2 linked regions of the Homo sapiens genome follow. The protein of the gene in region 1 interacts with the protein of each later gene in a biochemical or structural test. Each region holds a gene or a part of one and is shown on either strand. Other genes may lie near its edges.

Region 1 (3,877 bases):
TCTCAGGGGTGGGCCCTTGACCAGCCACTGCTTCCCACAGGACAACTCAAACTTATACATGGTCATGGAGTACGTGCCCGGCGGGGAGATGTTCTCACACCTACGGCGGATCGGAAGGTTCAGGTAAGCGGGCCACCCCCCATCACATCAGGCTGTCAGGGTGTCCACAGGTGGCAGTGCACGACCAAGCCCCCTGGGAATGCAGAGGAGTCCAGCATACTTCAACATGCAGGTGGTCTCCCAGACCCTGTGGGTTTCTGTTTCCCCTCTGCTGAGGAATATGTGATATTTCAACCACCACAAAACAAAACAGAGCAAACAGGGCAACTTAGGTGTCCAAACTGAAGTTGCTGCCAGGCACGGTGGTTCTCACCAGTAATCCCAGCACTTTGGGAGGCCAAGGTGGGCAGATCACCTGAGGTCAGGAGTTTGAGACCAGCCTGGCCAACATGGCAAAACCCTGTCTCCACTAAAAATACAAAACTGAGCTGGGCATGGTGGTGGGCACCTGTAATCCCAGCTACTTGGGAGGCTGAGGCAGGAGAATCACTTGAACCCAGGAGACAGAGGTTGCAGTGAGCCAAGATCACACCACTGTACTCCAGCCTGGGTGAGAGAGTGACATGCCGTCTCAAAAAAAAAAATTGAAGTTGTTGATTTTGTGCATTTTTTGAGCCCCAAAAGGTGGCATGCATCTGTAGTCCCACTAGTCCTGAGGCTGAGGTGAGAAGATCATTTGAGCTCAAGAATTTGAGACCAGCCTGGGCTGCATAGTGAGGTTTTGTCTCTTTTAAAAAAAAAAAATTGGCTGGGCGCAGTGGCTCGTGCCTGTAATCCTAGAACTTTGGGAGGCCGAGGCGGGCGGATCACGAGGTCAGGAGATCAAGACCATCCTGGTTAACATGGTGAAACCCCGTCTCTACTAAAAAAATACAAAAAAATTAGCCGGGTGTGATGGCGGGCGCCTATAGTCCCAGCTACTCGGGAGGCTGAGGCAGAATGGCGTGAACCCGGGAGGCGGAGTTTGCAGTGAGCCGAGATCGCGCCACTGCACTTCCAGCCTGGGTGACAGAGCGAGACTCCGTCTCAAAAAAATAAAATAAAAATTATACTATTATTTTATTTTATATAGGTGGACAGTTTTATATGTGTAGATTTTAATATATATTTTTATACATAAAATAAATCTATATACAGAAATTTGTAAGTTTAAGATACAGGCTGGGTACTGTGGCTCATGCCCTATAATCCCACTTGGGGAGGCCAAGGTGGGCAGATTGCTAGAGCCCAGGAATTTGAGACCAGCCTTACATAGCAAGACCCCATCTCTACAAAAAAATACAAAAAAAAAAAAAAAAAGTCAGGTGTGGTGGCACATTCCTGTAGTCCCAGCTCCTGGGGAGGCTGAGGTGGGAAGATCACCTGAGTCTGGGAGGTCAAGACTGCATGAGCCCACCTTCATCCCTAGGATGCAAGGCTGGTTCAACATATGCAAAAAAAAAAAAAGACTGCATAAGCCGTGATCACGCTGCTGCAGTCCAGACTGGGTTGTAACCCAGTCAGACCCTGCTGAAAGAAAAAAAAAATTTTTAACTTATAAATTTGTCTTATTAACTTATAAGTTTACATACGTAGTTTTATTTGATTTTATTTTTTGAGACAGAGTTTCACTCTTGTCACCCAGGCTGGAGTGCAGTGGCACGATCTCGGCTCCATGCAAACTCTGCCTCCCGGGTTCAAGTGATTCTCTTGTCTCAGCCTCCCAAGTAGCTGGGACTACAGGTGCATGCCCCCTTGCCTGGCTAATTTTTGTATTTTTAGTAGAGATGGGGTTTCACCATGTTGGCCAGGCTGGTCTCGAACTCCTGACCTCAGGTGATCCGCCCCCCCCGCCTTGGCCTCTCAAGATGCTGGGATTACAGGCATGGGCCACCGCGCTGGCCTTGTAGTTGTATTTTAGATAGATAACTATAGATTCACTTTACATACAACAAAATGCACAGTTCTTCAATGTTCCATGCTACAAGTTTTGACAGTTGTATATAGCTACCTAACCTCCACCCAAAACAGTATATGGAACTTTTCTATCACCTAAGAAAATTCCCTTGAATCCCTTTTTTTTTTTTTTTTTTTTCCAATAACATACAGAGGTGGAGGCCGGGTGCCATGGCTCACGCCTGTAATCCCAGCACTTTGGGAGGCCGAGGCGGGCGAATCACAAGGTCAGGAGTTCGAGACCAGCCTGACCAACATGGTGAAACCCCGTCTCTACTAAAAATATAAAAATTAGCCGGGCGTGGTGGTGCACACCTGTAATCCCAGCTACTCAGGAGGCTGAGGCAAGAGAATCACTTGTTTCCAGGAGGCAAAGGTTGCAGTGAGCCGAGATTATGCCATTGCACTCCAGCCTGGGCAAGAGAGCGAGACTGTCTTAAAAAAAATAAATTAATCAAAAAAAAATATATATATATATATACACACACACACACATATCTACATACATACAGAGGTGAGGTCTTGCCTATATTGCCCAGGCTGGTCTCGAACTCCTGGGCTCAAGCGATCTTCCCACCTCGACCCCCCAAAATGCTGGGATTACAGGGGTGAGCCACCGCACCGGGCCGAATCCCTCTCTTGACACGTCACCTCCCCACCAAAGGCAGTTGTCCTTTCTGACTTCAAACACCGTGCCTTTGTTTTGTCTGGGCGTGGACATGATATAAATGGAATCATTCATGTTCTTTTGTGTCTTCTTTTGCTTAACATAATCAGTTTGAAATGCAGCCACATTGTTGAGTGGATGCATGGGCTGTCCTGTTGGCGGTGGTGGTGGTGAGTGGAATTCCATTGTATGACTATAGCTCAGTCTGTGATTCCATTTTCCTGTGGATGGACCCACAGGCTGTTTCCCATGTCGGGCTATCTAAGAATCAGGTGCCTTGCGTTTCTGACGGCTGGACTGGAGGTGTCTTCCTCTGGGGTAGGCTCTGCAGGGCCACCTGCTGGACCATTTTGGGGCATGACCACTGACGTTCACCTCCCCATTTGTCCCCATCAGTGAGCCCCATGCCCGTTTCTACGCGGCCCAGATCGTCCTGACCTTTGAGTATCTGCACTCGCTGGATCTCATCTACAGGGACCTGAAGCCGGAGAATCTGCTCATTGACCAGCAGGGCTACATTCAGGTGCCCACCAGGCCGGGCGAGGGGCAGCCCTGGGGAAGCCGTGGCCTGGACCCTTCCTCCCTGCCAACTGCCTGTTCTTGTGCCCACAGGTGACAGACTTCGGTTTCGCCAAGCGCGTGAAGGGCCGCACTTGGACCTTGTGCGGCACCCCTGAGTACCTGGCCCCTGAGATTATCCTGAGCAAAGTAGGAGCCTCCCCAGCCCTCCCCTTCCCCTGAGGCCGGCTCTGCTCTCCTGCTCTCGCCTCCTCCTCACCCTGTGCCCCCCCATCTTGCTCCAGGGCTACAACAAGGCCGTGGACTGGTGGGCCCTGGGGGTTCTTATCTATGAAATGGCCGCTGGCTACCCGCCCTTCTTCGCAGACCAGCCCATCCAGATCTATGAGAAGATCGTCTCTGGGAAGGTGAGGTCCGGATGTGGGGACACAGCCCTGGAAGAAACAGACCGTTCCCTGCTCACCCATCCTATTCCCTGGGGAGCCCTGCTTGTTGTCAGAATAATCTAGAAGTTCCTTAAGTCAGGCCAGGTGGTGAAGCTGGACGCGCCGGCCACACTGAGGCCAACACCTCAAGCCCCCTTGCTGTCCAGCCCCAACCCCGCGGTTCCAGAATCCCATGGGCTTCCAAAATCCCGAGCCTCACGGGAACATCTTGGCCACAGAACACAAACCGCCCTGCCAGACGACCCTCCTT
Region 2 (3,877 bases), on another chromosome or scaffold:
GATGTGATGTTATGAGAAAGGCACACTATACCTCTGTGGAATTCCTCCCCAAAACCTATTATCTCAATCTATCCATAGAAAACACTGGACAAATGCAAACTGAGGGATATTCTAAAAGAAAACAGATCACTACTCTTCAAAAGTTACAAGGCCATCAAAGACAAGGAAACAAACTTTCACAGACTGAAGGAGACTATAATTAAATGCGATATGGTACCCAAACTGGATTATGTAAGTAAAAAAACTGGGGAAATAAAATGTATAATTCAGTTAATGGTATTATACCAATGTACTTTTATTTTTGATAAATGTACCCTGGTTATGTAATATACTAAGATTAGAGAAAGCTGGATGAAGGGTATCCGGAACTCTGTATTTTTAAAACTCCTTTGTAAGTTTAAAATTACTTAAAAATATATTAAAAATGTATATTTACCTTTGTACTGGTTTGAGTAAAAAAACTGACTTTAGAATGTTAACATTTTAGATGGTGAAATTAGAAGTAATTCAATTTTTAGGTAATGTTTCTTAATTTACTTATAATGAACATGTTTTACTTGTGTAATAATAAATTTAAAAAACCTGATAGTAATGTAAATACTCTTTGGTAACCTGCTTTTGTCCGAGAACATCTTCCCATCTTAATAAAAATACACCTTTATTTACTCTTAATGGCTAGTTGTATATAGTTGAATGGATATATTTTAATTCATATCAAATACATTTTAATTTTTTTAGAATTTTTCAAATTTTTTACCCTATCCATTTTCTAAGAATCTGCCTATTTATATCCCTCAACTCATTAGTCTTCTGACATTATTTGTTAAAATGTTTGCTACTTTATCTTTTACTTTCCTAAATAGGGGGTTTATAGTTTTATATGGTCAAATCCATTTAACCTTTTCCTTTGTTACTTCTGCCTTTAGGGAATCTGCTTTTAAAATCCCCCTACAATGTAAAGTTACATAAAGGCAAAGGTGATAGATTGTATTACTTTCACAATTTTTCACTCTCCACTTCCTGTAGGAAGAGTTCATTCCCACTCCACTGACTTTGGGCTTGTCCTTGCCTGTGCTGTGGCTAACAGATCACGAGTAGATGTAACGTTCACCAAAATCAAGCAAATGCTTTCAAAAGCATTGCCCTTTTCTCAAAGACGTGCTGCTCTATCTAGCCCAGGATCCTAGACCCAGATGGGCACATGAAGGAGAGCCACAGCAACTGACCTGCAGCTGCCAAAATGTAACAGAAGTGAGGAAGAAATTTTAAGACACTGAGATTCGTGGTTGTTACTGTAGCAACACAAATTAACAGAAGAGCTGTCTACACTTTCTTTTAGAATGTTTACCACTTACCTTCATCTTGAAATAAATGGCAATTTGGATAGTGATGAATTTTTTGGATTACAATCTTTTCCTATCAAACTTTAAGATAGGCTGTGTTTGATGTGCATAAGGGAAATTCATCCTAGTGAGCATGCTTAGGAGTGTGCTTCTCTTAACTTTTCCACTGAAATAGCCACACTAGAAGAGGAAACCAAATATGGAGACTCTGGGGGTGCAGCAAAACCACTGCTGGTATAAATTTCTTTTAAAACTCTTATTTTACCTTAAAAATAAGGTTTATTTCTCTCAAATATTTTAGCAAAATGAACATTCAAGGAAAGCACTCCACGTTCACCTCCTTAGGCTACACATCCCTAGCATACTGCCATGTGCTCTGGTTTGAGAGGCACAGCAGAAGATGGCTGCATACTGGAATCAGTGAAGTAGCATGTTTACAGGTTTTGGTGCCAGATATGGGTTCAAATTTCAGTTCTACTAATCTCATAAAGTGTGTGACCTTTGGCAAAATATTTGAATTTTCTGATATTTACCTTCTCCTCCTCTAAAGTGGGGATAAGCTTCTACCTCACTGTAGGTAGAATTAATAAAATAATATATACTGGAGCTTAATAAATAGCACTCGGCAGAAAGGTCAAAGCCAGAATATACAGAATTAAGAAGTATCAGCATATAAAGTAATGCCTGAAATACATGGGTATGGATGAAGGTTCAAAGGAAAAATTTGAAAAGTAGCCAGAAAACCAGGTGAAGTAAGCCAAGGAAGAGTTTAGAGTAATGAGAAGTCGAAAGTGTCAAATACTCCATAGAGTTAAAATTAAATGAAAGAAAATACTAGATTTGCCAAGTGGGAGGGAATTTGTACCTTTTTATAGACATATGAGCGGTATGCTAGTCATAGAAGCCAGATTCCAGTGAATGGAGGCTGAAAAAGTAAAAGCAGCAGTAATCTGGTAACAAAGGGGAAAAGGAACTATGGCAGAATCAATGAGAAGTTTCCTTTTTAAAGAGTAGGGTAACTATATCTAAGCAAAGTAATGTTATGAAAGAGTCCATGGTAAGTCGGGTAGTTTCCCTGAAGATCTCAGGCAAGCAAAGCCTGGTAGGAACTGTAGTTATGTGTGCCCTGTTCCTAACTTGTTGGTGGCAGTGGTCATAAATCTGAAAGAAAAATAAATAGAACAAAAAGGAAATTTGGTCTGCCAGTCAACGGGGGTAAACATTTTGTTCCACACAGCCAAACTACATAGACATAAACAGAAGTCCTTCTGTTGTTTTTTATAATCAAAAGGATTTATTTTTTGATTCTGCTCCTATGTTTGCTTTGAACTCTTTTCTTTAGTAAGCAGTGTTGTCTTAAATATTACTACTCAGCCTGTGCTTGAGACTTCTTGATCAGACTTGCTTCTAATTTTAAGTTAAAGGTTTCCTTATAAACATTTTTAAAAACTGAAAATATTTTAATTTTTATTTACAGATTTTAATTTATATTTTAAAATATATTTGAATTATGAATGCAGCTTTTATGCTTCTCTTTAGTAAAACTTAAATACTCAAAATCACAGATGGATGGAGCACAAATAAAAGTCACTTGAGGGCTGGGCACCATGGCTCATACCTGTAATCCCAGCACTTTGGAAGTCCGAGGAGGGTGGATCACAAGGTCAAGAGTTCGAGACCAGCCTGGCCAAAATAGTGAAATCATGTCTCTACTAATACAAAAATTAGCCAGGCGTGGTGGTGGGCACCTGTAATCCCAGCTACTCGGGAGGTTGAGGCAGGAGAATTGCTTGAACCCAGGAGGTGGAGGCTGCAGTGAGCTGAGATTGCACCATTGCACTCCTGCCTGGGTGACAGAGCAAGACTTCATCTCGGGAGAAAAAAAAAAAGTCACTTGGCTTGTTTCCAACTCTTTTTCTAATATCCCAGAAAAATCTCTGCCATTTCTCAGAGTTTAGATATAATTTACTAACATTGTGACAGCTAAGAATATTTTAGGAACAAAAAAGCTGATCTGAGCTGTGAAATTGCACACACACACACAAACCCATTTCAACAGAGCACTACAGTTACAAAGTGCTTTCAAAGGATTCTCTTACTTGACTCTTACAACAATACTTTGGGTGTGTGCTGGAATCCCATTTTACAAAACTGAGGTACAGAAGGTTAATACCTTCTCCCAAAATGGAGGGATAGGGCTAGGACTTGGAAGCCCTGCTTCTTTCACTTTATCAGTGTTTGAAGTATCCTGGGATGAACAGTGAGATACTTTCACTAATTTCAAACTTTTTAAACCTTTACATAACCTTATTTTCATTTTCTTTTGTTTGTCTCGGTCACTTCTATATGAAAGTTCTAAACCAATATTTAGTAACTTATTTTTATTGTTTTTGACGGCAAAATCATTTACAGCAATAAAGTTACTTTCTGAGAATTGCTTTACCAACATTTCACAGATTTTGAATGTAGTATTTTTTTGAAGACTATATTTTAAGATTTTTGTCCGTAACATGGTATTCTTAGAATTAACATAT

The links. Proteins that work in one complex are often made in the same cells at the same time.
Region 2: the proteins of PRKACA (region 1) and CREB1 form a complex in vitro, tested with the Homo sapiens proteins (2 studies listed by BioGRID, with this or other methods).

The regions. Positions count from the first base shown.
Region 1 is NC_000019.10:14,097,072-14,100,948, reverse strand, and holds part of PRKACA (cAMP-dependent protein kinase catalytic subunit alpha), read left to right. Parts: intron 1-40; coding exon 41-123; intron 124-3,058; coding exon 3,059-3,185; intron 3,186-3,274; coding exon 3,275-3,370; intron 3,371-3,465; coding exon 3,466-3,588; intron 3,589-3,877.
Region 2 is NC_000002.12:207,578,148-207,582,024, reverse strand, and holds part of CREB1 (cyclic AMP-responsive element-binding protein 1), read right to left. Parts: intron 2,505-3,877; coding exon of another isoform or gene 2,459-2,504; exon of another isoform or gene 204-2,458; coding exon of another isoform or gene 79-203; exon of another isoform or gene 1-78.